Regions from separate parts of the Homo sapiens genome. Here all the other regions are linked to region 1. The links come from fine-mapping of genetic effects on gene expression. A gene starts in region 1. Each other region holds a variant in brackets. All regions are shown on one strand. Distances are from middle to middle. Region 1 holds the start of PTPRS (protein tyrosine phosphatase receptor type S). Region 2 overlaps PTPRS (protein tyrosine phosphatase receptor type S). Region 3 overlaps PTPRS (protein tyrosine phosphatase receptor type S). Region 4 overlaps PTPRS (protein tyrosine phosphatase receptor type S). Region 5 overlaps PTPRS (protein tyrosine phosphatase receptor type S).

Region 1 (5,099 bases):
CTGGGCCATTAATAAACGCTCCAGCAGCTGCCGCTGGTATCGCAGGAGCAGAGGAGCGGGATGGCTTCCTTCTCCCGGGCGAAAGGCGGCAGAAAGAGGGAAGAAGGGCGCCCCAGACAAAGAGGCGCCGTCACCCTCTGCACCCCAAGGACAGCAGCGATAGGGGGCCACCCAGAGGAGGCCAGAATCCCAGCAGCCAAAGTCCGGGTGGTGGCGGACGGGAGCCCGGAGCGTGTGGGTCCCTGTCCTTGGGACCCTAGGGGTCTCTTCCTGCCTCCTCCGGCTTCTAGGTATCATCCCTGCTGCTCAGCCGGGACTCCGACACCTCGGACACCCGCTTCACTAGCCGCGGCTGCCGGGATGTGTTTTTAGGGTCTCGGCCAGAGGCAGGAGGACCCCATGCTCAGAAGGGGGCTCCCCTAGATTGTGACGGGGGGGGACAGGGGAATCCCAGCTGAGCCCAGAAGGGGGAGGCAAGGCACCCCCAATGAGGCTCTGGGAGGTTTGTTAATTTGGGGGAATGAGGTCCCAGGAGGTGGCTGGATTTGAGGAAGGGTTGCAGAGGAAGGGGCGTTCTTGGAAGCTGCATATTTAGGGAGACGAGAAGACGATTTGAGACTGGGGAAAGAGGGTCAACCGAAGAAGGAGGTCCCAGATTTGGGGCGGGGGGTGTGGCTGAAAAAAAGATTCCCAGTTTGTGGGAAAGGTTCCCTGATTTGAGGATTCTGGAGAGAAAGCGGCCGAAGGGGAGTTCCCCAATTTGGGAAGGGGGGGAATTGGTGGGAAATGTCCAGGATTTGTAGGGGGAGGTCCGAAGGGGAGGATCTTAATTTTAGGAGAGATTCCCATAAAGAGAGGTGAACTTGGCCGCAACCTGGCCGAACCCTCGCACCCACGGCGCGGGCACTCTAACCTGGGGGGCTCCCCTCAGGGCACGCCCCGCGCCCCCTTTAACCCAGTGCCGACGGCCCCGCCCCCGGTATGACGTCACCTCCCCTCCCCCCGCAGCCCCCGGGGGCTCCCGGGGCGTGCGGAACCCGCGGGGCTGGCGGTTCCAGGGGCGGCTTCCCCACTCTCGGGATCCCCACGGGGCCCCCAGCGCGGAGGGGAGACTGGGGTGCTGGGCGTGCGCGTCTGCCTGCCAGAGCCCCTGGGGCTGGGGGCTGAGGCTCGCCCCTGGGTGGGGAGGCTGGAAGGGGGCGCCGAGGCCGCAGAAGGGTGGGGCAATGCCCGAGTGCCGGAGGGGCGACCTCCCATAAGGCAACGACAGGGCCCGGAGTGTTCCAGGGGAGACGGCGTAGACTAGGGGGTCTCCAGGGGAGGGAGACCCGGAGAGGGAAGGCGGCGGGCGCAGCAGCCCTGGAGCCACCCCGCCTGGAGCCACCCGTCCCGGCTCCTCTCCGCTCCGGGGCGCCCGCATGCCCCCCATCCCCCGGCACAGCGCCCCCTGCCTCCAGGACCCGCCCGGGGACCCGGGCCGGGCGCCGCCGGGGCCGGCACCGGCTCCGCACACACGCGCGCCCCCCTCCGCGCCTCTGCCCCGCCCGCAGCCCGGGGTGGTGCAGCCGGCGGCGCTGGGCAGCTTCCAATGCCGCGCTCTGGGCGCTTCCAGCCCAGCCCCCTCCCACGCCGCGGACGAAGCCCCCCCAGCACCCCCTGCCGAGCGCCCCCAGCGCGGCCCCGGCCCTGTCCCTCGGGGCATTGTCCGGGCGCAGCTACCGGGGCGCAGCGGCTGGGCGTGCAACTGGCTGCAGCCGAGCATCCTCCGAGCACAATGGCCGTGCAGGCTTCCCCGGCACAAAGCCGGCGCGCTGCCCACTCGGCTGCCTCCGAGACCCCCCTTGGAGCGCCTGCATTTTTTTTTCCTCTAATCCATGATTTTATTTTTTTTTTTGGCTTTACCTGGAGGCTGGCTGGGCTGGGCTCCCCCGGCTCTGCCCCGCTTCACATCGTGGCTGTTGCATGGGATCCGAGCGGAGCCCGAGCGCCAGCGGCTCGCGGCGTGCGCGCGCCGGCCGGGCTGCCGGGCGGGCGGCGCGAGGACACTCACTGCGGCTCGCGCTCCCCTAGCTCCCGCTCGCGCGCCCCCCCAGCCGGTGACGTCATCCCTTCCGCCAGCGCCGCCGCCGCCGCCGCCGGGTCGGGGGCAGGGCCGGCCCGTGCGCGTCACTGCGCAGCCGCGCGGCCGCCACGCCCCCCGGCCAATGGGACGGCGCAGCGCGGTCACGTGGCTCCGGGGTGTTTAAAGGGCCGCGGGAGCACGTGGGGCGCGGGGCTTCGCGGGACACGTGGGCGGCTGGGGTGGTGGTGGTGGTGGCGGCTGCGGCGGCGGCGGGAAGGGCCCCTGGGGCTACTGTCCGTGCGGGAGCCCCAGCGTCCTGGGTGCAAAGGGCATGGCACTTTCTGTGCGCTGCCCTAAACTGTGCCACGGCTCCCCAGTACCCTTGGAATAAAATCCCGCCTCCTCTCTGCAGCTCGCCGTTTCACATTAGCGCCCACTACCCTGTCCCCTCCCCCCCACCATGTCAATGATCCAGAAAAACCAGCTGCTCCTTCTTTGCTTTTTCAGAGATGGGGTCTGCCACCTGGGCCTCAGTACAGTGGTATGATCATAGCTCACTGCAGCTTCAAACTCCTGGGCTCAGGTGATCCTCCCGCCTCAGCCTCCTGAGTAGTTGGGCTCGGGTGATCCTCCCGCCTCAGCCAGCTTCTTACAGTTCCTCTAACTTGAGCATCCAAGAACTTCCCCTTCTCATCTTTCCAATTTCTGCTCAAATAAGCAGCGCCTGGGAGAAGCCCTCCCTGACAACAGCTACCAGCCACGCCCCACTCCACTCTATCCCATTATCCCGGTTTGTTGTTGTTGTTGTTGTTTGTTTGGTTTTGAGTCGGAGTCTCACTCTGTCGCCCAGGCTGGAATGCAGTGGCGTGATCGCGGCTCACTGTAACCTCCGCCTCCTGGATTCAAGCTATTCTCCTGTCTCAGCCTCCGGAGTAGCTGGAATTACAGGCGTGCTGTCACCACGCCTGGCTAATTTTTGTATTTTTGTTAGAGACAGTGTTTCACCATGTTGGCCAGGCTGGTCTTGAACTCCTGACCTCAGTGATCCGTCCACCTCGGCCTCCCAAAGTGCTGGGATTACAGGCGTGAGCCACCGCGCCTGGTCCCATTATCCCGTTTTTATTCTAGTTACACTACAGTGTGGCTCCAGAGATCCCTATTGTAGGTTGAACACATGAATGAATGGATGATGGAGCACTTCTTATAGAGTAAGCACTTTACACAGGTCTCACCTAATTACCATCCCCTGCTTCCCTGGAGTCAGGACGAGCCACAGTTGGAACCCAGCTAAAACACTGATTTGCTGTGTGAGGCCCGGAGCCTCACTTTCCCCATCTGTAGAATGGATTTGCCTCTGGATCTCAGCTCTCATCTGTAAAATGGGGCAAGGTAGCCCCTGCTCCTAAGGAGGGTGTGATGATGAATTGCTATAATGTGGCAGCCTGGCTGCCATTGGTGCCTGAAGATGGAATAATAAGAGAAAAGAGGCCGGGCCCGGTGACTCATGCCTGTAATCCCAGCACTTTGGGAAGCCAAGGTGGGCAGATCACTTGTCAGGAGTTCGAGACCAGGCTGGCCGACATGGCGAAACCCCATCTCTACTAAAAATACAAAAATTAGCCGAGCGTGGTGGCAGGTGCCTGTAGTCTCAGCTAGTTGGGAGGCTGAGGCAGGAGAAACTCTTGAACCCGGGAGGCGGAGGTTGCAGTGAACCAATATCACACCACTGCACACTCTAGCCTGGGCGACAGAGTGAGACTCTCAAAAATAAGGAAAAAAAACAGAGCGGAAGTAAATAAAAGGGGGATATTGACAAAGGTAAGGGGGTTGGAGGGCTCACAGCCACCAAGCAAGATTGCACATCAGTCCTTGTGTTTTGATCATGTCGAAAGCATTTATTTCCTCAAGGCACATATTTGGAGAAGGCCTGGTGCCCAACAGAGGAACTCAACTTTAGAATTGGTTTTTTTTTTCCTCCAAAATTGTTGATTCATTCATTCCAGGCCACAGATGCAGATAAACAAAAAGCATTAACCCGGGGAACAAAACGATAAGGCGGAAGTCATAAACAGGAGAAAAGAGAGGAGATAATGAATAATTTAACAAGGAACCTAATTTAAGCTTGGAGTTTCCCAGCGGCCAGTGCAGCAGCCACGTTTGCAGAGCCTACTTTGTTTTTCTTCCTGGTGGGGTGACCCTGATCTGACCGTTTACAATCTGGCCTCAGTTTTCTCATCCAAGCAATGGGAACACGATCCCATCTTGAAGGATCAAATGGGGTGGTCTGTGCACAAATGCTTAGCGTGGTTTCTCACGCACAGTGGGTGCTGAAGCCTTGGAGAATTGGTGGAGACACAGTAAAATGAGATGGCTGATCGTGGAGGGGCTGATCATGGCACGAACCCCAGCCCAGTGACCTGTTTGGGAGGTGACCTCAAACAAGTGGCCGCAACACTGTAAGCCTAGCTGTCCCCATCTAGAAAAGGGGGACAACCACTAGTACCTCTGAGGGATTTTGTGAGCAGTCAAAGAAAACAGATTAAATACATCAAAAACAGAATTAAAATACATTGTAGCAGCTGGGCGCGGTGGCTCATGCCAGTAATCCCAGCACTTTGAGAGGCCAGGGCGGGTGGATCACCTGAGGTCAGGAGTTCGAGACCAGCCTGGCCAACATGGCAAAACCCTGTCTCTGCTAAAAATACAAAAATTAGCCAGGTGTGATGGTGCATGCCTGTAGTCCCAGCTACTCATGAGGCTGAGGCAGGAGAATTGCTTGAACCTGGGAGGCAGAGGTTGCAGTGAGCTGAGATCACACCACTGCACTCCAGCTGGGCAACAGAGTGAGACTCCCTCTCAAACAAAAAATACGTTGGCCAGGTGCGGTGGCTCACGCCTGTAATCCCAGCACTTTGGGAAGCCAAGGCAGGTGGATTGCCTGAGCTCAGGAGTTTGAGACCAGCCTGGCTAACATGGTGAAACCCCATCTCTACTAAAAATACAGAAATTAGCTGGGCGTGGTGGCGCGTGCCTGTAG
Region 2 (5,099 bases), 44 kb before region 1:
CTTGGGGCTGCATGACCTGCAGCATACAGGCCTGGCTCTGGGCTGCCCAGGACTCGGGACGGCAGACAAGGGCTTGCCAGCCGCTTCCCAGCCAGTCCTGCCCTCTCTGGGCCTCTTGTCCATGTCTCTGTGGAGGCAGACTCTTGCCCCTATTCCACAGTGGTGACTGCAGTTGGCAGGGGACACAGCCACCCCCGAGGGGCTGGGGGAGGTGGGCCAGGTGCCCTCCCCCTTGGCTGGGTGGCCCCATCAGCACAGAGCCCTACATGCGCCTAGTCCCCGGGTCTGCCTCTCCCACCAGACTGTGACCTCAGGAGGCAGAGCAGGATTTGTCTCGGTCACCCAGTGTCCCCAGCACCTAGCACAGGTCCACAGTACAAAGGAGGTTCTCAGCAAACATTTGCACAATCAGGCCCAGCCTCACCCAGGAGAGCCCCTCCGACCTTATTCTCCTCCAAAGGCCACACTGTGTGTGCCCTTGTCATAAAGCAGGCATCTTCACCTACCCTTTTTTCAAGACAGGGTCTCGCTCTGTTGCTCAGGCTGGAGTGCAGTGGCACCATCATGGCTCACTCTAGCCTCAACCTCCTGGGCTCAACCTCCTGGGCTCAAGTGATCCTCCCACCTCAGCCTCCTGAGTAGCTTGGACTACAGGCACATGCCACCACGTCTGGCTAATTTTTGGATTTTTTTGTAGACATGGGATCTCCCCATGTTGCCCCGACTGGTCTCGAACTCCTAGACTCAAGTGAACCTCCTGCCTCAGCCTCCCAAAGTGCTGGGATCACAGACATGAGCCCGTAATAAGGTTAAGCCCAGCCTACCCTTTTCTAAACAAACATTTCCAAGCCCCGATGCCAGGCACAATCCTAGACACACAGTGACCAAGACTGACAAAGATCCCTGCCCTCAGGGTGTGGATGCTCTAAAGAGGGTGACACATGAGAAACAAAAGAAATCAAATCCACTGTGGGTCAGATGGTGGTAAGGGCCCTGAGGATGATTGGGTTCAGGGTTGTAGGATGAGGAGGGAGGATCGCCTGAGGCCAGGAGTTTGAGACCAGCCTGGGCAATATAGCCCATCATCTCTACAAAAACTTTTAAAAATTAGCTGGGCCTGGTGGCGCATGACTGTGGTTCCAGCTACTTGGGAGGCTGAGGGCGGAAGCATCGCTTGAGGCCAGGAAGTTGAGGCTGCAGTGAGCTAGGATGGTGCCACTGCAGTCCAGCCTGGGCGACAGAGCGAGACTCTATCTCTAAAAAAATGTAAAATAAAATAAACACAGGATAGGAGAGAGGGGAGGTGACATGCGAACAAAGACCAGGAGAAGGTGAGAGAAAGTGAAAGAGGATTCCAGGCAGAGAGCTCAGTCCATGCAAAGGCCCCGGGGCAGCACTGCACCTGGCGTGTTGGAGGAATGGCGAGGAGGCCAGTGTTGCTGGAGCAGAGTGAGGAAGGGGAGACAAAGAGGAGGGGAGGGGAGGGAGGGGAGGGAAGGAATGGGGACAAGATGCGCACGGCCTCAGAGGCCTCCAGGAGGAATTGGGCTTTGACCCTGAGGAAGGTGGGAGCCATGGAGGGCTGTGGGTAGAGGAAGGCCCTGACTCAGGTACTCACAGACATGCTCAGCTGCTGTGGGGAGGGCAGACTGTGGGGGATGACTAGGCTGGGGCTGGACTGGGTAGAGGATGAGGGAGAAAGGCACATTCTAGGCAGACCCAATAGAATTTTCTAAACGGCTCATTTGGGGATGTACAGAAAAGAGGGGACTCAAGGATGACTTCTGGGTTTTTGGCCTGAGCACCCTAAAGGTTAAGGGTGGCCACCTCCAGGAAGCCCTCCCTGATTGCCCCGCCTACTCCGTGCCCTTGGGGGCTGACCCCTGGACCCCTCCAAAAACGTTCCATTGATATGTCCTCTGTATACACCCAGGAGGCGGCTGCCCTTGGGGAGGAACACGGGGCTGGATCACGTCAGCTCCCACAGCTGGGACGTTGGGGGGTAATTTTTTTCAAAATAACTTTTCTTCTAATTATAAAATAGGCGCGTGCAGCAGAAAATTAGGTAAAATCAGCATAAAGAAGAAAATAAAAGTTACCCACAATCCATCCCTCGCCTAGAGAGAAACTGTTTCATGCGGCCGTTCTCATTCATTCTTTCCCTGTACATGTGCTGAGCACCTACTGTGTGCTGTGCTGAGGACACAGTGGTAAGCATGATGGAACCAGCACTCCTGCCCCTGTTGGGGGGCACAGACTAGTTGCAGGGGGGATGGACACCCACAGAAAAACAAACACTGTCAATAACATAAGGCCGGGCAGTGCTAAGAGATGCCAAAAATAATTAAATAAACCACACTGCAAGGCTGCAAAAACTGGGGGGTCCCTGGGGGAGCCTCTTAGAAGTGGTGATAATTGCATTTACACCTGGAGGAAGAGAGCAAATCAGACATACAAACACCTATGACAACAGAGTTGCAGGCAGGAGGAACAGCAAATACGATGGCCCTGAGGCTAACCATTTCCTTCCAGTCTTTCTTTTCTTTTCTTTTTTTTTTTTTTTTTTTGAGACAGAGTCTCGTTCC[A/G]TCGCCCAGGCTGGAGTGCAGTGGCACGATCTCGGCTCACTGCAACCTCTGCCTCCCGGGTTCACACAATTCTCCTGCCTCAGCCTCCTGAGTAGCTGGGATTACAGGCGCACACCACCACGCCCGGCTAATTTTTTGGGTATTTTTAGTAGAGACAGGGTTTCACTATGTTGGCCAGACTGGTCTCAAACTCCTGACCTCATGATCCGCCCGCCTCGGCCTCCCAAAGTGTTGGGATTACAGGCGTGAGCCACAGCGCCCGGCCTCCTTCCAGTCTTTCTTCTATGCATACGAATGGGTGCTTTTCTTTCGTTCGATGGGGATCACCATTAGCAGACCATGTTCCAGTGTCCGGGTCACAGAATTTAATCAATTCCCACTTGTTTATCCCATTATGTCCCTTATAAACAACACTGTGAGGGACATTCTTAGACACAGCTGTGTCCCTTCGTCTCCTGAAGAAACTTCCAAAGCAGGGGTGACTGCATTGGGATGTTCTCAAGCCTTTAAACCTTCCCTGATGGGGAACCCTCAGATAAAACCATACCCTTGACCGGGGCAGGACCCCCTCCCCCAGCCTGTCTGTCCCACCTCCTTCATATTTGGCACCAAAACCCCCAGACATTTCATTTAGGTACAAACTCTGTACTCTTGGCTGTGAGAGCCAGAGAGAAACTGGTTGGGCAGCTTCCTCTCAGCTTCCCTGCCCTGGTCTTGCCCATGCCCAAGGCTCCCGCCTCCTACCTAGCACAGCATTCATGACCCGGGGCATGGGCGGGTGCCAACCAGCCAGGAGCCCGCCTCACCCATGTTCACATCACAGCCCTGGCGCCGGGTCTACCCGCCAGCCGCACCGCAGCGGGCATGATGCCCACCACAGGCACGCCCCAGCTCCATGTCTGCCTTTTTCACCTGTCCGCCCCCGCAGGCCAGGCTACCTTCCCCTTCCTGGAAAATGTGTGACACCTTCAGGCATGGCTGGATCCAGCAAAGCCATTCCTCCCATGTCTTCCCCAACTCTGCTGATAGCAGCTCTGTCCTTCCAGGGGCTCAGGCTAGAACCTGGAAGCTGGCCCTCACTGCTTTTCCTCCCTCACCCCATATGGTGTTGGTCTGGAAATACTCTCACGTTTGTCTCCTAAATTTCTACTCACTTTGTCCATCTTTCTCCATATTCCCTTCCCAACCCATCCAGCCTGATCATTGCCTGCTCGGACCAGCACAGTCACCTCTGCCCTGGTCCCCAGCCTCCCACCCTCGCCCTCCAGTCTGTCCTCCCCACAGCACCCACTACATGGTGCCGGTGTGCACCTGAGTCAGGTCCCGTCCCTCCTCTGCCCACAGCCCTCCATGGCTCCCACCTCCCTCAGGGTCAAAGCCCAAGTCCTCCTGGTGGCCCACAAGGCCCTGCATGACCTGCTCCATCTCCTCCCTGCCCTCCATTCCTCCCTCTCTCCCCCTCACTCTGCTCCAGCTACATGGGCCTCCTCGCTGTTCCTCCAGCACCCCAAGTGCAGTCCTGCCTCAGGGCCTTTGCACAGGCTATGCCTCTGCCTGGAACACTGTTCCTCTACATTTTCTTGTCACTTTTCTTCTCACCCTTCCATTCTCCCTCAAGGATCACCTCCTCAGAAATGCCCTGGCTGACCACCTGGCTCAAGCAGCACCCATCACCCATTACCCATTATTTTACTGTCACCTGAAATTCTCTGTCTTTACTCACTGTCTGGGTCTGAGTTATCAAATACAAGAACCACTAGTGGCTGGGTGTGGTGGCTCACGCCTGTAATCCTAGCACTTTGGGAGGCCAAGATGGGTGGATCTTCTGAGGTCAGGAGTTTGAGACCAACCTGGCCAACACGGTGAAACCCCATCTCTACTAAAAATACAAAAATTAGCCGGGCATGGTGGTGCGCACCTGTAATCCCAGCTACTCGGGGCTGAGGCAGGAGAATCGCTTGAACCTGGGAGGCGGAGGTTGCAGTGAGCTGAGATCGCGCCATTGCACTCCAGCCTGGGCAACAAGAGTGAAACTCTGCTTCGAAATAAAATAAAATAAAGGAAAAGAAAAAGAAAAAGGACCACTAGCCACATGTGACTCATTAAACTTAAATGAAGAAAAATTAAATAGGCCGGGTGCCATGGCTCCCACCTGTAATCCCAGCATTTTGGGAGGCCAAAGTGGGTGGATTGCTTGATGCCAGGAGTTTGAGACCAGCCTGGACAACATGGCAAAACCCCATCTCTACTAAAAACACAAAAATTAGCTGAGTGTGGTGGTGCACACCTGTAGCCTTAGCTACATGGGAGGCTGAGGCATGAGAATTGCTAGAACCCAGGAGGTGGACACTGCAGTGACGTGAGATCATGCCACAGCACTACAGCCTGGGCAACGGGGCGAGACTCCATCTCAAAAAAAAAAAAAAGAAAAGAAAAAGAAAAATTAAATAAAATTTAAAATTCTGCTCCTCAAGTCACACCGGCCACATTTCCAGTGTGGCTCATGGTCAGAGT
Region 3 (5,099 bases), 110 kb before region 1:
AATACAATGTCCCTGAGAGAGGAGGGAAGTGCCCTGCTGGCTAGAAGAAGGGAGGGAGAGATCACAGGAGGCTGCTTGGAGGAGGTGGCGTTAGAGCTGGATGCTGGAGGACGCAGACAAGGTGCGTGAAGGGAATAGTGTGGACAAGGGCAGGGGCTGTGTCCAGCTGGGAGGCCTGAAAGGTGGGGTACACAGTGGTGTGGCTACAAGGGTCCCCGAGGAGAGGGTGGGTGTGGGGACTGGGATGAAGGCCACAGAAGTCAGTCGATTGTTCCTGAAACACCCGAGCTTGTTCCGCCCACCACCACCACCACCACGCCCCACCCCCCAAGTCTTTTTCTGGGCTGTGCCCTCCGCCCGGTGTACCCTCCCCTTACATCTTCACGGCAGCCTCTTTTTCTTAATTCAGCTCCATTTTGGCTGGAAAAAAAAGCCAGCCCCTTGGGGACGATGGAAGGGACAATGGAGGGGCTAGAAGGGGAAACTGAGGCAGGGCCACCAAGAGAAAGGTGGCTTCCTGGTGCAGTAGGGGAAGACAGGTGCACCACCCTGAAATAACAACCTAGCCGGGGCGACCAGAGCCTGGATGGGGGAAGCACAGGAGACTAGGGGGCCCAGAAGGATCAAGATTATGGGATGAGGCAATCAGGGAAGGCTTTCCAGGGCCAGGTGTACCTTGAGCTGAGACCTAAAGGCAGAAGAGGAGCCAGCCAGCAGGGGAAGGGGTATCCTGGCAGAGGGAACAGCCCAAGTAAAGGTTGAGAGGGCAAAGGGGTCAGAGGTGGCTGTTAACTGTTTCTGTCTGGTGGGAGCCGGGGGGACAGGAAGTGAGTGACAAAGGAGGAGGCAGGGGCGGGGGGGGCCAAGCTGGGCCCTGGACACCCACCTGAGCAGCCCTCACACCTTTGTCTCACTGTTCCAGCTGCCTGGTGCACCCTCTGCCTGCCCTTGTGAGCTCAAGGACTCTGGAGTCACGCTCTGGTGCCAGTGGGGGCAAAGGGGCTGTTGGTGGGTGGGAGGAGGGCGGGTTGCATACCTGCTCCCTTGGTCACAACCACCTTGGGTTTGCTGCGAGCGCCATCGCCCTTCATGGTGTAGGCGGCTACCGTGATGGAGTACGCGGTCTCAGGCTGCAAGTTTGTGATGACCATCTCCTGCAGGCACGGCTGGGGGTCAGCACGACGGCTGGGGCTGGGAGCAGCCCCACCCACCCCCACTCCCCGTGCTGAGAACAAGCAAGGAGGATGCAGGGCCCGGATCAGGGGTGGAGACGTGCACATGAGCTCATGCAGAGACCACGACACGTGGCATGGCCATGCTCAGAGGGTACATGCAACAACCCAGCCGGACGAGCCCATTGTCGCTTGCCAGGACCAACTCGGTCCTCTCTGCTCCGCTCCCCTCACTCCTTGCCATCACCCCCGACAGTCTGTCCTCCCCACAGCAGCCAGAGGGCGCCTGTGAGCACTGGAGTCAGGGTCCGTCCCCGCTCTCCCCACAGCCCTCCATGGCTCCCACCTCTCTTGGGGTCAAAGCCCAAGTCTTCCCTGTGGCTCACAAAGGGCTCTCCTTGCTGTTCCTCCAATGCACCAGGCACAGCCTGCCTCAGGCCCTTTGGCACTGGCCTTCCCCCCTGTCTACACCCACTGGTGTGCTGGAGGTGCCCGGTACCAACTCATGAGAGCCGCTGGTTAAATTTTCAGGAATTTTGTGAGCCACTTATGAAACAGAGCTGTTATTAAAAATTAAACTGTACGAGGCTGGGCGCAGTGGCTGACGCCTGTAATCCCAGCACTTTGGGAGGCCAAGGCAGGAGGATCACTTAAGGTCAGGAGTTCCAGACCAGCCTGGCCAACATGGTGAAACTTCGTCTCTACTAAAAATACCAAAAAAAAAAAAAAAAAGCAAAAAAGCCAGGCGTGGTGGCACATGCCTGTAGTCCCAGCTACTGGGGTGGCTGAGGCAGGAGGATCACTTGAACCCAGGAGGCGGAGGTTGCAGTGAGCCAACATCGTGGCACTGTACTCCAGCCTGGGTGACAGAGCAAGACTGTCTCAAAAATAAATAAA[T/C]AAACTGTATAAACTTACAATCAACTAAGTTATATTGAAAGCAAAGGCAATAAATACAGCAAATCTAGTTATTTCACTAGGGTTACTGTTCTCTGTGGGTATCTGTATGGTTACTGCTTTGAGATCATCTTGTCTATTGCATCTGTAGAGTAGGAATACATGATTATGGGCTACTGGGCACCTCCCCGGTAGCTTGAAATTGACATGGTGGGAAGTATTTACACCATGGAAACGGTCCAATGCTACAAAACAGGACTGCCCCCTCCTGCCCACCCAGAGAGCTGATTTTTACTCTTTTATCTTATTGAGACAGGGTCTCACCCTGTCGCCCAGGCTGGAGTGCAGGGTGTAATCATAGCTCACTGCAGCCTTGACCTCCTGAGCTCAAGTGATCCTCCCGCCTTAGCCTCCCAAGTAGCTGGGAATACAGACGTGCACCACCACATGCCTGGCTAATGATGTTTATATTTTTTGTAGAGATGGGATCTTGCCATGTTGCCCAGGCTGGTCTTAAACTTTGGGCTCAAGTGATCCGCCTGCCTCTGCCTCCCAAAGTGCTGGGATTACAGGCGTGAGCCACTGTGCCTGGCTGAGAGCTGATTTTTAAATGTTTATTTCACTGTCTAAACCCCATCCCCACCACAGCTGTAACAATTTTTTTTTTTTTTTTTGGACATAGAGTTTCGCTCTTGTTGCCCAGGCTGGAGTGCAATGGCATGGTCTCAGCTCACTGCAACCTCTGCCTCCCTAGTTCAAGCAATTCTCCTGCCTCAGCCTCCCGAGTAGCTAGGATTACAGGCATGCGCCACCACGCCTGGTTTTGTATTTTTAGTAGAGACAGGGTTTCACCATGTTGGTCAGGTTGGTCTCGAACTCCTGACTTCAGCTGATCCACCCGTCTTGGCCTCCCAAAGTGCTGGGATTACAGGCGTGAGCCACCATGCCCTGCCGATGTGTGTTTTGTTCCGATTAACATCCCTCTCACTGAGTATGACTGTTAGGGAGGAGGGGCTCTTGTCACCACCACATCCTCAGCATCTAGCACATAGTAGGTGCTCAATAAGTGAGTGCTCGTCCAATGAATGACAGCACAGAACACTCCCGGGCACGCGGACTTGCACAACACCTGTGCACACGATCACAGCATCATGTGTGCCCATGTCTGCAAGCACACACGCACCCCCCCAAGCACAGGCCGGCATGCCTGGGAACTGTGGGGTAGACCCAGGCCAAGGGGATAAGGAGGGGTGACGGGGATGCACAAACAGGGTCTCCTACCCCTGAGCCTCACAGTCCATCCCTCCCAGGGTCTCTGCGAGAAGAGCAGAGTTGAAGCCCAGGTGGGAACATTCCCTCTAGATCCAGTGTGGGTGAGAGATGGGAGGCATCAGAGCATGTGGGACCAGTGCCTGTTTGTTTGTTTATTAGAGACAGGATCAGCCAGGACCAGTGGCTCATGCCTGTAATCCCAGCCACTCGGGAGGCTGAGACAGGAGAATTGTTTGAACCCAGGAGGTGGAGGTTGCAGTGAGCCGAGATGGCGCCACTGTACTCCAGCCCGGGCGATAGTGTGAGACTCCGTCTGGAGAAAAAAAAAAAAAAAAGAGACAGGGTCTCCCTCTGCTGACCAGGCTGGACCGCAGTGGTGCCATTTTGGCTCACTGCAACCTCTGCCTCCCAGGTTCAAACGATTCTCCTGCCTCAGCCTCCCGAGTAGCTGGAATTACAGGTGCCTGCCACCACACCAGGCTGTTTCGTATTATTAGTAGAGAAGGGGTTTTGCCCTGTTGGCCAGGCTGGTCTTGAACTCCTGACCTCAGGTGAGCCACCTGCCTCAACCTCCCAAAGTGCTGGGACTACAGGCATGAGCCACCACGCCCAGCCAAGGGACCAGTGCCAATTTAATGTCAGACCTGGGGTTCTCAGCAGAGACTGGTACTCCCGTTTTAGGGGCAGAGAGGTAGTCCAGAGAGAGGTAGCAACTTGCCCCAAGTCACACAGCAATTCCTCTCTGGTTTAAAGCATTGTGGGGTTGTAACCAGGCTATCACAGACATCCTTCCCCACTCTGGCCCCGCTGACACCTCTCATCACCCGGGGGCCAGAATGAAGACGACAGCATATCCAGAGAGAGGCATTTCTAGGCCAGACAGGGCTGAATTGAGTGACAGTAAAGGGTGGGGCTGGGTCAACAGGAGAGGAGACATACTCACAGGAGAAATGACTACGGGCAGGAGAAGGACCCAGGAGGCTTAAGCCCCACCAATGGCAGGAGCCATCAGGGTGAGAGGATTCAGGGACGACCCTCAGGTCCTGTTGCTCAAGCCACCCTCGGGTCTGCCCCCTGGGGCGCACAGTGGTCCGAGTATCCCATTTCCCTGGTGCAAACATCGAGGCTGGGCGCTCCAAGAGGTAATGGGAGAGCGAGGGGCGCATGGGAGGGCCCAGAGGAGGAGACCGTTTTACTACTGATGATAAGGGGCGTGCAGGAGTCACAGCACAGCACGGCCCGCGGGAAGCGCACAGCAGTAGGTGGGTGGCCAGGGGCGCTACTTACATATTCGGCCGTGTCATCCGTCTCCCACTGAGCGCGGGAGGAGGCGGCAGGGGAGAGAGGAGGAAGGTGAGCGGGGGAGGCCAGAGATGGAGAAAGAGAAGCAGAGGTGGGGGGAGCGCAAGGGCCCGTCCCCGCCCGGAGCCCGTCCCCGGCCCCGCCCCGGCCCCCCGCCCACCTGGGCATCGGCCAGCATGACGTCCTTGATGCGCGGCGGCCCGCGGGCCTCGGCGCCCTCCATGCGCACGTAGTGGACCTGGTAGCCGCGGATCTGGCCGTGCTGCCGGCCGGGCGCGGGCGAGCGCCACAGCACGCGGATGGCCGTGGCGTTGAGCGCCTCCGCCTCCACCTTCCGCGGCGGCGCGCTGGGCACTGGCGGGCGGGAGGGGAGGGGAGGGGCGGGCGGAGCCGTTACCAGGGCGCCCGGCCCTGCCCCGGGCAGTGCCACTGTCCGATTCCAGGATGCCGAGTGGCTGC
Region 4 (5,099 bases), 140 kb before region 1:
ATTGATTTAACACATACCTTATTTAGAAATGTGTTTTAAGGCTGGGCACGGTGGCTAACACCTGTAATTCCAACACTTCGGTGGGAGGCCGAGGTGGGCGAATTACTTGAGGTCAGGAGTCTGAGACCAGCCTGGCCAACATGGTGAAACCCTGTAACCCTGTCTCTACTAAAAATACAAAAAAAAAAAAAAATTAGCTGGGTGTGGTGGTGGGCGCCTGTAGTGCTACATACTCAGGAGGCTGAGGCAGGAGAATCGCTTGAACCTGGGAGATGGAGGTTGCAGTGAGCTGAGATTCAGCCACTCCAGCCTGGGCAACAGAGCGAGACTCTGTCCCCCACCCACCTCCCCGCCAAAAAAAGTATTTTAAAATTTCCCTCCCCCTTCCAGGGGAGGCTAATTACTCTTCAGAGCCAAGATCAGGATACCTCATCTAATATTTGTTTCTTGGAATTTGTGAAGATCTCTGTTAATATTTTTTGTTTGTTTTTTTGAGATGAAGTCTTGCTCTGTCACCTGGGCTGGGGTGTAGAGGCGCGATCTCAGCTCACCGCAACCTCCTTCCTCCTGGGTTCAAGCGATTCTCCTGCCTCAGCCCACTGAGTAGCTGGGATTACAAGCGTGTGCCACCATACCCAGCTAATGTTTTTTATTTTTAGTAGAGACGGGGGGTTTCACCATGTTGGCCAAGCTGGTCTTGAACTCCTGACTTCAGGTAATCCTCCTGCCTCGGCCTCCCAAAGTGCTAAGATTACAGGCGTGAGCCACTGCACCCAGCCGATCTCTGTTAATTTTCACAAATGTTCCATGTGCGTTTGAGAATGTTAGAGTAGGAGGGGATAATAGGGTTTGTTAAATATTTTTGGCCAAGCTTATTAATGATGTTAGTCACATCTGTATTTTTTTGACTACCTGATCTGTTGCTTCTTTTTTTTTTTTTTTTTTTTTTTTTTTGAGACGGAGTCTTGCTCTGTCACCCAGGCTGGAGTACAGTGGTATGGTCTTGGCTCACTGCAACCTCTGCCTCCCAGGTTCAAGGGATTCTCCTGCCTCAGCCTCCCAAGTAGCTGAGAATACAGGCTCCTGCCACCATGCCCGGCTAGTTTTTTGTACTTTTAGTAGAGACGGTGTTTCACCATGTTGGCCAGGATGGTCTCCATCTCCTGACCTCGTGATCTGCCCGCCTCAGCCTCCCAAAGTGCTGGGATTATAGGCGTGAGCCACTGCGCCCGGCCTTGATCTGTTGGTTTCTAAGAGACATAGTCCTATTCTTCCCTGAGCTGGGTCCCTGGTGTCACTAAGATCACCCCTTCTCATTCCTGGAACTTCCCTGAGGTCATAGGGGGCTCTTTCATCCTATCTCTGGCTCCTGTGGGTGGCTTCTATGCCCAAGCAAGAAGTGACTCAGGCAAGGGTATAGATACAAAATGGCTCACTCTCCATCCCCAGGGATGTGATTCTGGCTCAGTGCATGGATCTGCTCATTGAGTGGCCTAGGGGTGGAGCAGAGTGTCCCCAACCTGTTGCTTCCCTCCACGGACTCAGTTCTTCCCCAGGGCACTTCGAGAAGGCAGCACCGTGTGATGCTCAGGGCTGCGGGTGAGATGGGCTGGGGTACGAATCCCAGCTCCACCTCAAACTCATTGTGTGCCCCTCCCTGAGCCTCAGTTTCCTAATATGTAAATGGGGATTTTTTTTTTTTTTTTTTTTTTTTTGGAGATGGGAGTCTCATTCTGTCGCCCAGGCTGGAGTGCAATGGCATGATCTCAGCTCACTGCAACCTCCGCCTCCTGGGTTCAAGTGATTCTCCTGCTCCAGCCTCCTGAGTAGCTGAGATTACAGGCAGGTGCCACCATGCTTGGCTAATTTTTGTGTTTTTAGCAGAGACAGGGTTTTGCCATGTCGGCTAGGCTGGTCTCGAACTCCCGATCTCAGGTGATCCATCTGCCTCGGCCTCCCAACGTGTTGGGATTACAGGCGTGAGCCACCGCGCCTGGCCAAGGGGCTGGTAACTTCTATCTCAGAGTGTCTGGCCCATGGTGAATTCTCAGTCATGGTCACTTATTAGAATGAGAACACGAGGCAGCCCCTACAGGACCAGGGCTTGGGTTCAAATCTTGGCCTGGCCACTTCATCGGTGTTTTGAGTTTTTTTTTTTTTTTTTTTTTTGAGACAGTCTTACTCTGTCACCCAGGTTGGAGTGCAATGGCATGATCTCAGCTCACTGCAACCTCTAACTCCTGGGTTCAAGCGATTCTCCTGCCTCAGCCTCCTGAGTAACTGGGATTACAGGCGCCCGCCACTGCGCCTGGCTAATTTTTGTATTTTTAGTAGAGTTGAGTTTCACCATGTTGGCCAGGCTGGGTTTCACCATGTTGGCCAGGCTGGTCTCAAACTCCTGACCTTGTGATCCACCCGCCTCAGCGGTGTGTGGTCTTGGACAAGCACCACCACCTCTCTGGGCCAACTCCTCCTCTGACTGTTCACACAAGGAAACGAGATCAGCTCTCCAGGACCCCACCGACCTCCACCCCAGGGATGAAACTGGACAGGCAGGGGCGCAACAAAGACTCCACAATGGGCCGGGGTCAGACGATCTTCCTTTAATACAAAGTCGATATATCTACATACACGGGGGTGGGAAAACCACCCGGCTGCTTCCGCTGGAATAAACAGTGTTGAAAGTAACCGCAGACCTGCCCTTGTACAAAGAGGAACAACTCGCTT[G/C]CTCAGGGTAGGCGGGTAGAGGGGGGCCTGTCCTTCTGGTTTTGCTCCCAAACTGCCCCACAGTCCCAGGGGGAAAGGGTCCCTGATGTGGGGCAGCACAGCCATACAGCCACTGTCCCCGAAGAAGTAGGATCCTCTCTGTCTCCTTGGGGGCGGGAGACGGGGAGACAGCTCAGGCTCTCAGAGGAGGACCACTGTCATCTCTCTCCTCTTACAGCAGCGTCCCCCTCAACCGCACCCAACGCCACTGGGTCCGAGCTCCCCCATGACCTTACCCTCAGAACTGTATTTGATATGTCTGAAAATTTAATTTATAAAAATGAAACAAAAAGGGGGAAAAAAAAAGCCAAGAAAGAAAAAAGGACATCCCATTCTTCTGTGAGCAAAGCACACTTTCTGATGGTAGGAAAAATTAAAAAAAAAAAAAAAAAAAAAAAAGCCAAGGTACAGCCATGGGCCTGGCGTGCGCGTTTGCGAACGTAACTATCACACAAGGACGCTTTCTACAGTGAAAAAATAGACTGTCTTTGAACAGAATATGAATAAGCCAAAGTTAGTTCTCTTTGAAAGTCATTGACTGGCGAGTCTTTTGTTTGTTTCTCTTAAAAAAAAAAATGGAAAAAAAAATACACTATTTAAAAAAAATGAAATGTCACGGGATACAGTTACACTGAGAGTTTTAAAAGAAAGCTGGATTCTGGTCCCAGCCCAGTGTCCCCAGGCTGCAGAGCGGGGAGGAGCCCCCCGGGTCCCCCTACCACCGCTGGGGGAGGACGAGGGGTCCGTCTATGGTCTGTGCCCCACCCTCCTCTGGTTCTGGGGAGCACTCCTATTTGCTCACCATCCCCCCACCCCCCACCCCGGAATCTGGTTTTGGAATTGGAAGGAAAGGAGGAATGTGCCAAGTATTTGAAGGCGGCGGCCGGTGCCAGGGAGGTCGCTGGGGCGGCCGGGGCCGGTGGGGGGGCTCGAGGGGCTGCGTCGTCCTCGGAAATGGTGCAGAAACACAGCTGCTGCCGCTGCCACCTCCTGCCCTGCCCACTGGGGGTCCAGGCCTCAGGAGGTCCGCCCGGGAGGGGCAGAGGCATCCGGGGCCAGTGGTGTCGGGCCTGGGGGGAACCATGGCTTTAGGTTGCATAGTGGTCAAAGCTTCCGAGGTACTCCAGTGCCGCCTGGTAACAGAACTGGTACTCATCCTGGGGGAGCAGAGGTGACCTGTTAGTACCTCCGCTGCTCTAACGCCTCCCAGGGCTCCCTATCGCCCTCAGGAGCAGGCCAAGCTCCTCAGCCTTGTGCGTGTCTCTTGCAGAAGGTCTCTTTGGCCCCCACGGCCCTCCCACAATGAAGTGAGCTATGCCACACCTCTCTGCCTAACACAGCCAGGCTCTTCACCCGGAACGCCCTCTCCTCCCGTCTGCCTGGAGGCCCTATTCATCTTTTCTTTTTTATTTATTTTGAGACGGAGTCTCGCTGTGTTGCCCAGGCTGGAGTGCAGTGGCGCCATCTTGGCTCCCTGCAACCTCTGTCTCCTGGGTTCAAGTGATTCTCCTGCCTGAGCCTCCCAAGTAGCTGGGATGACAGGCGTGTACCACCATGCCCAGCTGATTTTTGTATTTTTAGTAGAGACAGGGTTTCGCCATGTTGGCCAGGCTGGTCTCAAACTCCTGACCTCGGGTGATCTGCCTGCCTTGGCCTCCCAAAGTGCTGGGATTACAGGCATAAGCCACCACACCCAGCCTCATTTCTATTTTTTTTGTAGAGATGGGGTCTTTCTGTGTTGCCCAGGATGGGCTCAAGCGATCCTCCCACCTCAGCCTCCCAAAGTGCTGGGATTACAGGTGTGAGCTGCCACGCCGGGTCCCCTCTACTCATCTTTTAAGACATGGCTGCTGTTCAGAACCCCCTCCACTGGAACATTCCCCTTGAAGCTAGGAGTCTGGGCCTCAGTTTCCCCATCTGTACATTGGTTGGACTTGGGGGTCAGTGGTTCTTGGCAGGGTCCAGGCTGAGCCACAGACTTGCTGTGACTTGGGGACTGCAATGAGCCCATCTCTGTCCACTCCAAGGGCCACTTCTCGCCTTTGACCTTCAGCTGACTGTTGTGTTAAAAGGGTTACTGGTCCCCTTCCAGTGCGGGAGGGGTCTGTGGACCGTCTACCCACAGTGACCCAGAGAGTCCCAGGTGGCTGTACCCATCTCACAGAGGAGGAAACTGGAGCTTAGGGGCAGTCGGGGCGTGAGGCCAGGCTGCCTCCCCTCCCTGTCCCATCTTTACCTCTGTCTGCACCATGGCCGGCCGCTGGGTTCGTAGCATCTTCACCGTCTGAAAGATGTCCACCACGCCTTCATACCGCATCCGCTCCAGCACGATG
Region 5 (5,099 bases), 78 kb before region 1:
AGGCGGTTGTTGGGGGGCCGGGGGGCCCCAGGGAAGCTGGGCTGGGCCGTAAGCCAGGCCTCAGCACTCTGCCCCAGGGAGGGGATCGAGCCAGCCCTGGGCATACGGACCCTGCGGGCTTTGCTGAGGAAGCTAGGAGAGGCCTCCTAGGAGCAGGGTGAGGTCTGAGGGCTTGTCAAAGCAGGAGGGTTTCCTGTAGAAGGCGGGAATCTCTGGGGGTGGAGGGATGGAGTCTAGAAGCCTCTCTGGATGGGTGAGGGGCGTCTCTATGCCCAGGGAAGGTCTGTCAGCCTGGCCCTTTGGTGGCCTTCCCTCTGGGCTGAGGGAGGGAGGTTCATCACCCCCCCTTCCTTCTTTCCGTCTTAGGGAGCCCAGCAAGAGACTGCTTTCAAGTCCAGACTAGGAGGGGACAAGGAGCAACAGGAATTATCTTGTTAGAGACAGGGGAGGTGGGTGGGGTTAGTGCCCCAGTGCCGGGCATTAATACAGCCAAGGAAGGGTGTCACAGACAGGCCGAGTAGGAGGGACAGGGAGAGCCTGGCAGCCTTCTTACCAAGAGGAAAAGAGGAAAGACCTGTTTATCTGGGCCTTGGAGGCAGGGATGGTTAACTGCAAAGCAGGAAAAGGCGGCTCGGGGCTGGAACGTTACTCCCTCTGCTCATGATCCAGGGAGAAGTTTTGGGCCCCCTTCTCTCTGCTGCTGATGGCCGATAACTTGATAACTCGGCTGGCTGGGGCCAAGAAGATCCCAAGACCTCGATCTGCCAGGAGTGGCCAGACACGTGAAAAAGCAGCTCCTTCTGCGTGGCCCAAACCCATTTTGCAGACGGGCCAACTGAGGCTCAGAGGGGAATCTCTGAGGTCCCATCATGAGGCAGGGGTGGGCACTGAGCCTAGCTCTCCAGCCTCCTGGGATGAGGAGCTTCTGGCCTGAACTTTTCGGAGTCCCTGAATTATCTTTCGAGGTGTTCTCGTGAGGCCACTCTGCACCCTTTAGAGGGGAGCAAACAGAAGTTTGCCTAAAGTTACACCCTGGAGAACTGGAATCCGAGTCAGCGGAAATCCAGGCTGGCCTTTGCTAGGACACTGGGATGACGATGGTGGAAGTCAGGGTTAAAGAAAGTCTTTTCAGGCCGGGCGTGGTGGCTCACGCCTGTAATCCTAGCACTTTGGGAAGCCGAGGCAGGTGGATCACCTGAGGTCAGGAGTTTGGGGTACCAGCCTGGCCAACATGGTGAAACCCCGTCTCTACTAAAAATACAAAAATTAGCCGGGTGTGGTGGTGGGTGCCTGTAATCCCTGCTACTCAGGAGACTGAGGCAGGAGAATTGCTTGAATCGGGGACGTGGAGGCTTTAGTGAGCCGAGATGGTGCCACTGCACTCCAGCCTGGGTGACAGATTAAGACTGTCTCAAAAAAAAAGAAGTCTTTTCAAGTTGGCCAAATCACTCAGGGCTATTCTATCAAGTGGAAACAATGTATCCCTTAGCCATTAAAAGGTGTTCCGCCTCCCACCCTGAGAGAGATGAAGGGACTGATAGCATAGGCTGATATCAGTCACTCTCACTTTAGTATGAATTAGTCCCACAACTGATTTCAGGAGATTCAGGCTGAATGCTGAGAAAAGTGGATGAGAAGTGCCCAGTAGCAGCTAGGCTGGAAAAATCTCCACTCCACGCCCAGCCCCAGCCCCCAAACTTCTGTAATTAAATCCTTTTCCAGCAGGGCTAAGGCCAAGAAAAAAGTGCGGGAGGAAATGTTGTTAGGTGCGAAGTTCCATGAGCCCGAGGATGCCTCTGAACCCCCCTCAGCCTGCATTTTGAGGTCTGCCTGGCCTTGTCTCTTTTCCTCTTTTCCTTTGGGTGGACTTGTCTCTTTTCCTCTTTTCCTTTGGGTTTCTTTCTCTGCCGCACACTAGTGCCAGCTGGGGAGGGCTGAGGGGCCGGTCGCGGGGAGGAGGGAGAGGGCGTTAGTAAACATACCAGGCAGAGTGGGTCACAGTTACCATCACGGTGGCTGTTAGTTTGGTGAGGAGAAGGGGAGCAGAAGGGGCACAAAGGGGATGGGGCGTTAGTTGTTGACGTGGTGATGAAATCAGACTTACCAAA[G/C]GTTTCTGAACGTTTACAACAGGAGGATAAGAAAAGAGAACAGGAACGTTAACGGGTGGTTACAAAGAATCCTATGTCCTCAGCGAGGAGGGGAGGGCGGGGGAGGGGAGGGGGACGCTCAGAATAATAATAACAACATTTCTTATGATTCCTAAAGTGGCTTATGTTCACTGAGCACCTAGCAGGCGCTAGACATTCCATCCTGGAGAGGTCACCAGAACACAAGGAAAATAGGCATGTTTTATGGGGAAACTGAGGCCACCGCTCCCCCTGCTTGCAGAGGCCTATGAGCTGCAAACATCCTCAGCCAGGCTGGGAGATAGGAGGCGATTTGTCCCCCCAGTGTGAGGTCTGAGTCTCTCCAAGGAAGACATTCTGGGCTCCACGTCTGATCTTTTTGGGGCTTGGTTTTCACTAAGGAGGAGGAGCAGAAAGCGGAGAACAGGTAGGTAGGCTCTTTGGTGGGGGGCAACGATGGGCAGTGAGTGAGGGGCGCTGGGGATGATTCGGGGAGGTACTGCTGCAAAGGGGGCTCCGTGGCGGGATCCTCGGAGGAAGGGGAGAGAGAAAGCAAAAAGAGGGGTGTGTGGAGGTGCAGGGTGATCTCAACAGTGACCTGAACGAAGGCAGGGCGTCAAGCCCGGCACAACTGAAAACAGTAAATCCGTGACACAGACAAACACGCATGTGCAGCCACACGTGTGCTCCCAATGTATGGAGACACATCCCCACCACGTGTGTCCCCACGCACGAGCACTAGGGAGGTGCAGGCTGAGAGGCGCGTGCGCGGATCACTGCCCTGTGTGCACAGGCACGGGAGTGACTGCAATGTGGGTGCACGTGTGGCCGAGATGCAGGCGGACACTTTGCTCCGGGCGGGGGAAGGGAGGCCCGTGTGTGACAGCAGCCAGGCCTGCACACCTGTGCCCACAGGCGGGAGGCAGGCCAGGCCGGCACAGGGAGCCCAGACATGCACACGTGGACATGTCGTGAAGCGGGGGGACAACACACACGCAGACACAGCCCCCCAGACAGATGGACCCACAGATGGGCCATGTGGGTGCTTTGTGGAGACACAATGGTGGAACCACCCGTCTCCAAGGCTCTGTCCCAAGGTCTCCCTAGCCCAGCCAGGGCCTGAACAGACAGGCTGGACTGCCCGTCTGTGCCCCCTTACAGACCTGAAGCCCCGCCATCACCTCTTACTGCTCAGCCTTGGAGAGACTCTCTCCCTGTAGTTTTCTATGGCTCCCCATCACCTTACTTGTCACCTCTGGACACCTGCCATTGCCTTACACAGCTTCCACTACTCCTGCCTGTCTGGGCCCCACTGTATTCTCACTGGACGTGCCTAATGCTTCTGTAGAGGATGCTCTCTGCCACCTTCCATAGCTCCCTATTACATACCCATTGAAGCTGGTCTCCCCTTGTCACCCTCCATGGCTCACTGACACTTCTGCCTGTCTGTCTCCCATTGCTTGGGCACTGCCGATACCCACCATCCTTGGCGGCTTTCTTTCTTTTCAGAGATGAGCGTCTTGCTACATTGCCCATGCTGGTCTCAAACTCCTGGCCTCAAGCAAGCCTTCTGCCTTGGCCTCCCAAAGAGCTCGGATTACAGGCATAAGCCACTGCGCCCAGCCCCCTCAGTGGCTTCCTATCACCCACAACTGTCTGTGGGTGACAGCTGTGATCTCACTGCCTGAGCATGGGAGACACTCTCCCCGCCCATGGCCCTATATAACTCCCCATCCTTGTGCATGTCTGCATCCATTATATCTTCATTGGCCAGGTGTTGAAGCACTATTCTTCTACCACCCTCTATAGCTCTCCAGTACTCATGCCCATCTGTGCCCCCTAATATCCTCAGTGTGCGGCTTTGAAGACATTTGCCCCCACTCCCCCAGAGCCAACGCCTGCCACGGCCACACACTGTCTCTGTCTGTCCTCCAGTAGTCCCCAGAACTTGGGCCCTGGAGATGCTCCCCACCCCCTGCTGCCCTCCAAGGCTCCCACGTCCTGTCAGCCACCCTCACTCACCTGATCGCAGCTGTTTGATGCGTCCATTGCTGGCACTAGGATCCACAGGCAGGAAGTCCTTGAACCAGGTGATCTCAGGGTCAGGGTTGCCGCTGGCTGCACAGAGCATGGTGGCTGTCCGTGTCCGCTCCACCACCTTCAACTGTGGGCCCATGTCGATGTTGGGGAAGCCAGAGGGCAGCTGGTCCTCTGAGGGCAGAGACGTGAGAGAAATGGGCATGGTTCTGAGCACTGCACAGCCACTCCTGAGCCTGGGGCTCAGGGACTGCCTGGCCACGGGTCCAGCTCCTCCCTGGCTGCGTGACCTCAGCCATGGGTGCCATCCTTTACAGCCAGTTCTCTCTCTTTTTTTGAGACAGGGTCTTGCTCTGTTGCCCAGGCTGGAGTACAGTGGCTCGATCATAGCTCACCGCAGTCTCAACAACCTGGGCTCAAGTGATCCTCCTGCCTCAGCCTCCTGAGTAGCCGGGACTACAAGCATGCGCCACCACGCCTGGCTAATTTTTAAAATTTTTGTAGAGAGGGGGTCTCGCTGTGTTGTCCAGGCGGGTCTCAAACTCCTGGCCCCAAGCAATCCTCCCACTTCTGCCTCCCAAAGCACTGGGATTGCAGGCATGAGCCACTGCACCTGGTTGGGTCCCTCTTCTGTACAAGGGGGAGGCTGGTGTCAGGGAGCTGAGCCAGGTAGAATGATATTTCTCACTGGGGGGTGACTCTGCTGCCCTGGGAGACACTGGGCGATGTCTGGGGATATCTGAGGTTGTCACAACTTGGGGGTCAGGACTTGGGGGTGGGTGCTCCTGGAATGGACTGGGTGGGGCTGAGAGATGCTCTACACCCTACTACATATAAGCACAAACCTGGCCCCAAGGTCCACAGTGCTGAGTGGGTTCATTTACAGCAGCCTGAGGACGCCTTTCTTTTTATCTTTTAAAAAATTTTTAAACAGAG

The links. PIP is the estimated chance that this variant, and not a neighbour inherited with it, causes the effect.
Region 2: its variant is fine-mapped to the expression of PTPRS in thyroid (GTEx, PIP 0.91).
Region 3: its variant is fine-mapped to the expression of PTPRS in whole blood (TOPMed, PIP above 0.99).
Region 4: its variant is fine-mapped to the expression of PTPRS in whole blood (TOPMed, PIP above 0.99).
Region 5: its variant is fine-mapped to the expression of PTPRS in whole blood (TOPMed, PIP above 0.99).

What each region holds. Positions count from the first base shown.
Region 1 is chr19:5,338,762-5,343,860 of GRCh38, forward strand. It overlaps PTPRS (protein tyrosine phosphatase receptor type S), which reads right to left and starts at 2,051. Exons shown (of 38, transcript NM_002850.4): 1 at 1,903-2,051. RefSeq lists an enhancer at 1-112 and a silencer at 1,979-2,258.
Region 2 is chr19:5,295,244-5,300,342 of GRCh38, forward strand. All of the region lies in intron 1 of PTPRS (protein tyrosine phosphatase receptor type S), which reads right to left. Among named protein-coding and RNA genes, the nearest start is that of PTPRS, 43 kb to the right of the region's middle. RefSeq lists enhancers at 1-543, 2,956-3,456. The variant A/G (reference allele first, on the strand shown) is at 2,586.
Region 3 is chr19:5,224,691-5,229,789 of GRCh38, forward strand. It overlaps PTPRS (protein tyrosine phosphatase receptor type S), which reads right to left. Exons shown (of 38, transcript NM_002850.4): 15 at 4,801-4,994; 16 at 4,626-4,652; 17 at 1,037-1,154. Among named protein-coding and RNA genes, the nearest start is that of PTPRS-AS1, 49 kb to the left of the region's middle. RefSeq lists enhancers at 622-1,241, 1,242-1,860. The variant T/C (reference allele first, on the strand shown) is at 2,070.
Region 4 is chr19:5,202,920-5,208,018 of GRCh38, forward strand. PTPRS (protein tyrosine phosphatase receptor type S) reads right to left here. Exons shown (of 38, transcript NM_002850.4): 37 at 5,003-5,099; 38 at 2,589-3,923. The coding sequence ends at 3,855. Among named protein-coding and RNA genes, the nearest start is that of PTPRS-AS1, 28 kb to the left of the region's middle. The variant G/C (reference allele first, on the strand shown) is at 2,728.
Region 5 is chr19:5,260,860-5,265,958 of GRCh38, forward strand. It overlaps PTPRS (protein tyrosine phosphatase receptor type S), which reads right to left. Exons shown (of 38, transcript NM_002850.4): 5 at 4,149-4,337; 6 at 2,105-2,113. Among named protein-coding and RNA genes, the nearest start is that of PTPRS, 77 kb to the right of the region's middle. The variant G/C (reference allele first, on the strand shown) is at 2,109.